Linked DNA regions of Homo sapiens. The protein of the gene in region 1 purifies or fractionates together with the protein of each later gene. This does not show direct contact. Each region holds a gene or a part of one and is shown on either strand. Other genes may lie near its edges. The genes, in order: LPL and LMF1.

Region 1 (3,816 bases):
TTAAAGGATTTATGTTTAGGAATTTGAGATTTTATCACAAAATATTGAATTTACTATGTTAACATAGTAAATGGCTATATTTTGTTAAACATCTGTGTGAATTCTGTTAGTAGTAGTCTCATCTCTATAAAAATTGTAGCGATTGTCCTCTTCAGTCAATAACAAAGCCACTTAAATTATGTAGGAAAAGAAATGTGGACTAGATGAATGTTATTTTTAGTTAGTTCTCACTAGAAATTAGTATTATAATATTCACAAGCTCTGACATAATGGATAGATAATATATCTTTAACAAGCCATTTTACACAAATCCTTTTAAATAAATTACACAGTCTACTCACTTGGGATTGAAACATTTTAAAACAAACTAAGCAAGAACTACATAATCTAAAGTGACTGTGTGACATATTAGAGAGGGGACTTTTAACAATTTTTTAAAGTAAATTTAATCACAGTTTCACTTTTTCTAATCATCTGGCATGTCAGCATGTCAGTTCCCTGCCCAGCCCTTTTTTTTTTTAATTTCCAGAAAGGCTCCCTAAAGTTTACAACTGGAAAATTTTGGAAGTAGAGTGTTTTTAGGGACATCTAGTGCAACCTCTGCTTTACAGATCAGTAAATGGAGGCCCAGAGATGACAAGTGACTTGATCCACAGCACAGAGCTGGAGAATGGCAAAGCCAGCATGGACGCCACACTTCCTCACTCCACTCCAGCCCTCTCCTCACTCTTCCATGCTGTCTTCTTTAGAAAGGTTCTCCTGGCAATGTGCTGGGTGATGCGGGATCATGCCAGGGTTCCACCGGTTCCCCACAGCAATCACCTATCTTCTGCTCAGTAGCTGGGCAGAGCATCCTTTACCAACCTCGCAGGAAGCTCTGGCTCAAGGGCACCAACCAGGTACAGTGTTAAAATGAAGGCTGGCACTGCCTAGGGGGAGTTCTCATGAACCTGTGGCTTCAGATCCCACCTGAGCCAGAACTGTCTTTATTCAAGTGTAAGGAGATCCACGTGAGATGTGGGGTGCGGACCCATCACTGGGTCCCCAACAATTGGGCAGGCCAGTCAGGATACCTCACCACCCCAATCCACTCTTCCCCAAAGAGCCTCCCTTACCGTCCAGCCATGGATCACCATGAAGGTTTTGCTGCTGTGATTGAAATGACAGGTAGCCACGGACTCTGCTACTCCGGGAATGAGGTGGCAAGTGTCCTCAGCTGTGTCTTCAGGGGTCCTTAGGGCAAATTTACTTTCGATGTCGATAAAATCTCTTCTTTCTGGAAAGGAAAAATTGGATATGAGGTTAACTGGAGGGTTGCTTGATTTTATTCATTGGAATGATATGTTTTAGGTTCACAGGCAACCACCGCTGATGCTATTTTTGTTTCTGAAGTGTTTTCGAAAACGAATGTGGATTGCAAGAGAACAACAGATGCTCCAACGTTGAGCAAAGTTGACAGAGAGACAACCTTAACTCTGAATTAAGATTGTCACCATTGACCTCTCCTAAGTCTTCCAGCCTTTCTTGAAGCTCTCCTTAGTCAGGGTATGTGTGTGTACGTTTGTGATTTCAACTAAGGGAACTGCTGTTTGGGGATTCCTTAGTTAATTCTGTCTTCTCTCAAGACATGAATTTAAGTGACTTGGCTGAGGCTACCCTGGTATTAGTGGGAGGGTGAGGATCAGAGCCCGGTCTCTCAGTTCCACTTTGAAGCTTGCTTTCGTGGAGAACACTGACTCATGCATGGCTCTTGTGTGCTATAGTTCCACTATTTGTGTGTGTGTGGGGCGGGGGGGGGGTTGTTTTGTTTTGTTTTGTTTTTTGAGACAGGGTCTTGTTCTGTGTCCCAGGCCAAAGGAGTGCAGTGGTGCGATCTTGGTTCACTGCACCCTCGAACTCAAGTGATCCTCCCACCTCAGCTTCCTGAGTAGCTGGGACCACAGGTGCGTGCCACCACGCCAGGCTAACTTGTATTTCTTGTAGAGATGAAGTTTGGCCATGTTGCCCAGGGTGGTCGCTATCTCCTGGGCTCAAGTGATCCACCCGCCTCAGCCTCTTAAAATGCTGGGATTACAGGCATGAGCCACCGGGCCTGGTTAATTTTTGGATTTTTAGTAGAGATGAGGTTTCACCATGTTGGCCAGGCTGTTCTCAAACTCCTGGCCTCAAGTGATTTGCCCACCTCAGCCTCCTAAAGTGCTGGGATTACCAGTGTGAGCCATCGGGCCGGGCCTCTATTTTTAATAAAATAATTTAAAAAAAATTTTTTAAAGAAAAGTTGGAAGCATGAGGAGGCTTTTGTATGAAACTGTTCCCACTCCTATGGCAAGATATACTTCAAAATGTTCTAAGAAATAATTTAGTAGGTTGTTCAGAAATACCCGTGCTATGTATCAGCCATGGTTAATTCTCTCCCCAAATATTTCTTTTCCCACTATGTCATTACAATGTTCCACACAAAGGCAAAACTTGAAAACCACAGCAAACCTTGTTGTTGAAAGGGTTCACTTTGGTTCTTCATAGTTAATCCCAAACTTGGTGAGAAGAGAAAGACAACCTAGTTTTTGAAACTATGGACAATAGTTATAAATGCTGCTGAATCTTCATGGGGTACAGTGAATAGTTGAAGTAAATTATATTGCAAATAAAATCAGACTTCATGAAGCAGAGCACAATCAAAGGGAAGTTATGTTAAAGGGAAATCATTTAATTCCTTTTCAAGTAAAGAAGTTAAAGAAAACGACCCATAACACCCACCTATTTACTGTAAGAAGGTAATAACTTGTAGATTTTAGATTTTGCCGTTCGAAATTTCAGGAGATTCATGAGGCTGCGAGGACTACTTCTCATTCCTTAATCTAAATTTGCTCTTTTTTTTCAACTCAAAATTTAAAAATCTGTAACTTCAAAATAACTGCGGAAGTCAGGCCAATAATAAAAATAAGAGTGTCATAGTGAGAACAGTGAAAGAATAGGCATTTGAATCAGCCTTATCTAAATATCTGAGGATTGGCCAACATTTTCCTATTGAGTAATTATTTTCTAAAATTCCTTAAACAATATTGTGGTTTAAGAAATATGCAATGAGTTGATCACACACACATACACACACACGTGCACACACACCTCCGTCATCTAAAATGTAGGAGAAATTTCTTAATGATTCTAATTATGAGAAAAGGAGTTTTGTTACAATGGGTAAACACTCCAAGATCACTTATTCAAATAAGAGTCTTGCTAAACTATTGATCTTTAAAGCTCTTTTCATTTGCATATAGTAAAAGTACACGTGAATCCATTCATCCACCAAGAATATGCTCTACTTCTCATCTTTATTTGAAGATGTTGGTAGCCTTCTTCCTTCCCAACCAGAAAGCACTCTAGTAGCTTTACTATTTCTCTGATAATGGAAGAGTATTGAATACTTTTAATCTAATTCTGCCTTCAGTGCCCAAGAACTTCTTTTCCTGTTAAAAAGTGCTTTAGAAAATTTAAAACTAATTTCACCCTCTCCCACACCTTTCCACCTTAAATAGCTCATACCTCCTCTCCACAGGTCTTATTTTAACATATTCTATGATCAATCTTTTTAAAGCAGAGATGATGTGAACAATCTGGCAGACAGATCTCGCTTACCACCTATTTGCCAAATTGACATTTTAAGAATAATGCTCAGTATAACTCCAGAGGCTGCCATTCACTTTTAGTCCACTTTCCCCTAGAATTATGCAACTTGGTGTCCCTGGAATTGCTGGTGGTTTTGAAATGACCACAAATTTTCTTTGAAATGACTAAGACTGGCTTTGTGTAGTTCCA
Region 2 (3,816 bases), on another chromosome or scaffold:
CCCGTGCTGTCACCGTGAGTCTGTGTCTGGGTCGTGATCCCGTGCTGTCACCGTGAGTCTGTCTGGGTCGTGATCCCGTGCTGTCACCGTGAGTCTGTGTCTGGGTCGTGATCCCGTGCTGTCACCGTGAGTCTGTGTCTGGGTCGTGATCCCGTGCTGTCACCGTGAGTCTGTCTGGGTCGTGATCCCGTGTTGTCACCGTGAGTCTGTGTCTGGGTCGTGATCCCGTGCTGTCACCGTGAGTCTGTGTCTGGGTCGTGATCCCGTGCTGTCACCGTGAGTCTGTGTCTGGGTCGTGATCCCGTGCTGTCACCGTGAGTCTGTCTGGGTCGTGATCCCGTGCTGTCACCGTGAGTCTGTGTCTGGGTCGTGATCCCGTGCTGTCACCGTGAGTCTGTGTCTGGGTCGTGATCCCGTGCTGTCACCGTGAGTCTGTCTGGGTCGTGATCCCGTGTTGTCACCGTGAGTCTGTGTCTGGGTCGTGATCCCGTGCTGTCACCGTGAGTCTGTGTCTGGGTCGTGATCCCGTGTTGTCACCATGAGATGGTGTCTGGGTTGTGATCCAGTGTTGTCACCGTGAGTCTGTGTCTGGGTCGTGATCCCGTGCTGTCACCGTGAGTCTGTGTCTGGGTCGTGATCCCGTGCTGTCACCGTGAGTCTGTGTCTGGGTCGTGATCCCGTGCTGTCACCGTGAGTCTGTGTCTGGGTCGTGATCCCGTGCTGTCACCGTGAGTCTGTGTCTGGGTTGTGATCCAGTGTTGTCACTGTGAGTCTTTGTCTGGGTTATGATCCAGTGCTGTCACTGTGAGTTTGCTGCTCAGCTCCTCCAGCTTTGACCACTGGTGGGTTTCCCCTCCTTCCCCGCAGGGATGCTTCCGGCCCAGCTTCTGTTTCTCTGCCCCAGCCCTAGAATGAGTTGTTTCCAAGGAGCCCTGGTTCTTTTTAGGGGAGCATAGAAACTTCAGTCTGGGCACTGGGAGGGCCGTTGCTCCCGGGGTGTCACAGCTGCTGGCCCTCTTCCTGGGTAGAGCTAGGCTCTGTGTGTCACTATCTCATTTCACACATTTGATTGCTTCTCTGTCGTATCCACCTATCCATCTGTAAGTATACGAAGGTCAACCTGGTCCATGCCGATGACTCTGACTCTCACCTGGCACACGGTGTATTCCAGCCTTCCGTCCTGGAACATGGTGTATTCCATCCTCCCGTCCTGGCACACGGTGTATTCCAGTCTTCCCTGCTGGCCCATCTGAATCCTCCCTCTCTGCTAGTGGGAACCTGGCTCCCCTGACTCCTCTAGCATCTGCTCAGCCCTGGTGCACGTGCGAGAATTGTCCACCCAGGCCCGGGGGGGAAAGCCCTGGAGTGCAGCGTTTGTGTACAGCTCCTTCTGGCCTTGCGGTCTCCACTCAGAACATTTTCCGGAGTTGCTTAGGCGGCTCCTGCCCTCTGGCCAGTGTGTTTCTGTTTCACATCCGTGCGTGTGGAGCCTGTATTCTATCTGCATCCCCCAACCTCCTGGTCGGGTCTTCCCCCAATAGTTTGTGCACATTGAAGTTCATCTCGTGTAATGCTCAGTGCTGTGGGCTTTGCCTCCATCACCCCAGCTCCAGCCCCAAGTCCCCCGTGCATGGGAGTGACCACTTCCCCTGCACCAGCCCCTGGCACGCCCGGGTCTGTCTCCCGTCCCTCTGGTTTTGCCTTTTCCAGTGTGACATACGAATGAAATCACGCAGTATATAGCCTGTTGGGTCTAGATTCTTTTGCTTAGCAAAATGCACTTAAGATTCATCCATGTTATTGCCTGAACCAACAGCTGCATTCTTATCTCTGATTATTTTTCTGTTGCACAAATGCACCTCCGGTTATTTATCCACTTCCACCGTGAAGGATGTCTTCCTTGTTTCTAGTTTTTAGTGGCTATGAACAGAGCTGCTATGAGCATCTGCATGAGGCTTCTGTGCGAGCACACTTTCAGGTTGAAGGCCTGAGAGGTGCAGTAGCTGATTTGTAAGGTAACCCTTCATTATCTGGGTCAGATGCCACCGTCTGCCATCCACAGTGGTAGGCCACAGCATCCCCGGCACAGCGAGGGCACTCCTGCTGTCCCGAACCTTCTGCAGCATTGGGCACTGTCCATGTTCGTGTTTTTTTTGTTTTGTTTTTTTGGTTTTTTTTTTGAGACAGTCTTACTCTGTCGCCGAGGCTGGAGTGCAGTGGCGCTGTGTCGGCTCACTCCAACCTCCGCCTCCTGGGTTCAAGCAATTCTCCTGCCTCAGCCTTGCGAGTAGCTGGGATTCCAGGTGTGCACCACTATGCCCAGCTAATTTTTGTATTTTTAGTAGAGACGGGGTTTCACCACATTGGCCAGGCTGGTCTTGAACTCCTGACCTCAGGTGATCTGCCCACCTCGGCCTCCCAAAGCGCTGGGATTACAGGCATGAGCCACCGCGCCCGGCCTGGGCACTGTCCGTTTTCAAGCACTTCGGCCATGTGACGTGTGTGTGGTGACAGCACGCTGTGGTTTTCATGGGCATTTCCGCAGTGATGAAGGATGTTGAGCATCTTTTCACGTGTTATTTGCCATCCGTACACCTTCCTATGTCTGTTCAGACCTTGTGGCCTGGTTTTTTCTTCCCACCTTTAACATTGGGTTGTTTGTTTTCTAATTATTGAATTTTAAAAGTTCTTTAAATATTCTAGATACAAATCCTTTATCAGATGTGTGATTTGCCAGTATTTTCTTCCAATCTGCGGCTTGTGTTTTCATTCTGTTAAAAGTAGCTTTTGCAGATCAAAAGTTTTTCAGTTTGATAAAGTTCAATTTACAGTTTCTAATTTCATAGATTATGCTTTTGGTGTTGTATCTAAAAACTTGTTGCCAAACCCAAGTCACATAGATTTTCTTCTATATTTCCATCTGGAAGTCTTATGCTTTTATGTTTTACATTTAGGTCTATGATCCTTTTTGGTTAATTTTTGTGTAAGGTGTGAAGTGTGTTCAGGTCCATCTTTTTGCATGTGGACATCCATCTGTTCCAACATGATTGTTACAGAGACTCTTCTTTGTTTTTTTATTTATTTTGTAGAGACTGAGTCTCACTATGTTGCCCAGGCTGCTCTGGAATTCCTGGGCTCAAGCGATCCTCCTGCCTCAGCCTCCCAAAGTGCTGGGATGACAGGTGTGAGCCACCACGCCCGGCCCAAGGCTGCTCTTTGTCTGTGTAGTTGCCTTTGAACCTTTGTCAGAATTTGTTCACTCTGTGTGTCGGGTCGGGGGCAGGGGGGCTGTGTCTGGGCCGTCTCTTCCATTCCATTGAGTTCTGCGGCTCTTCCTTAATCAATACTGCGCTGTCTTGATGTGGTCTTGATTAGCTTTTTAGTAAGTCTTGAAATTGGGTAACATGAGTCCTCCACCTCTGTTCTTTTCCAGATGATTTTGGCTTTTTAATCCCTTTGCTCTCCCATGTATATTCTAGAATCAGCTTGTCAGCCTCGGCGGAAGCACTGACTGGGTGTTTGGTTCAGATTGTGCCGAATTTATGGATCAAATTGACACCTTAATGATTTTGATTTTTCCAATCCATGAACATGGTCTATCTCTTCATATAGTTAGATCTTGTTTCATTTTTTTAATCAGTGTTTTGTAGTTTTCCATGTGCAGATTCCGTTTATATGTTTTTAGATTTATAAATGCATGGGGAAAAGTACATGTACTAGCTTCCTACATGTCTACACAGACACTCACTCCAAACCAGCATGCACAGTTACACAGACATGGACCCCAAGCCAGATTCCTACACGCAGTAGGAAGCC

Evidence for each region.
Region 2: the proteins of LPL (region 1) and LMF1 purify together in Homo sapiens (affinity purification with western blotting, with the first as the bait; one study listed by BioGRID). This does not show direct contact.

What each region holds. Positions count from the first base shown.
Region 1 is NC_000008.11:19,945,640-19,949,455, reverse strand, and holds part of LPL (lipoprotein lipase precursor), read right to left. Parts: intron 1,277-3,816; coding exon 1,116-1,276; intron 1-1,115. UniProt on the Homo sapiens protein: Key enzyme in triglyceride metabolism.
Region 2 is NC_000016.10:957,249-961,064, reverse strand, and holds part of LMF1 (lipase maturation factor 1), read left to right. Parts: intron 1-3,816. UniProt on the Homo sapiens protein: Involved in the maturation of specific proteins in the endoplasmic reticulum. Required for maturation and transport of active lipoprotein lipase (LPL) through the secretory pathway. Each LMF1 molecule chaperones 50 or more molecules of LPL.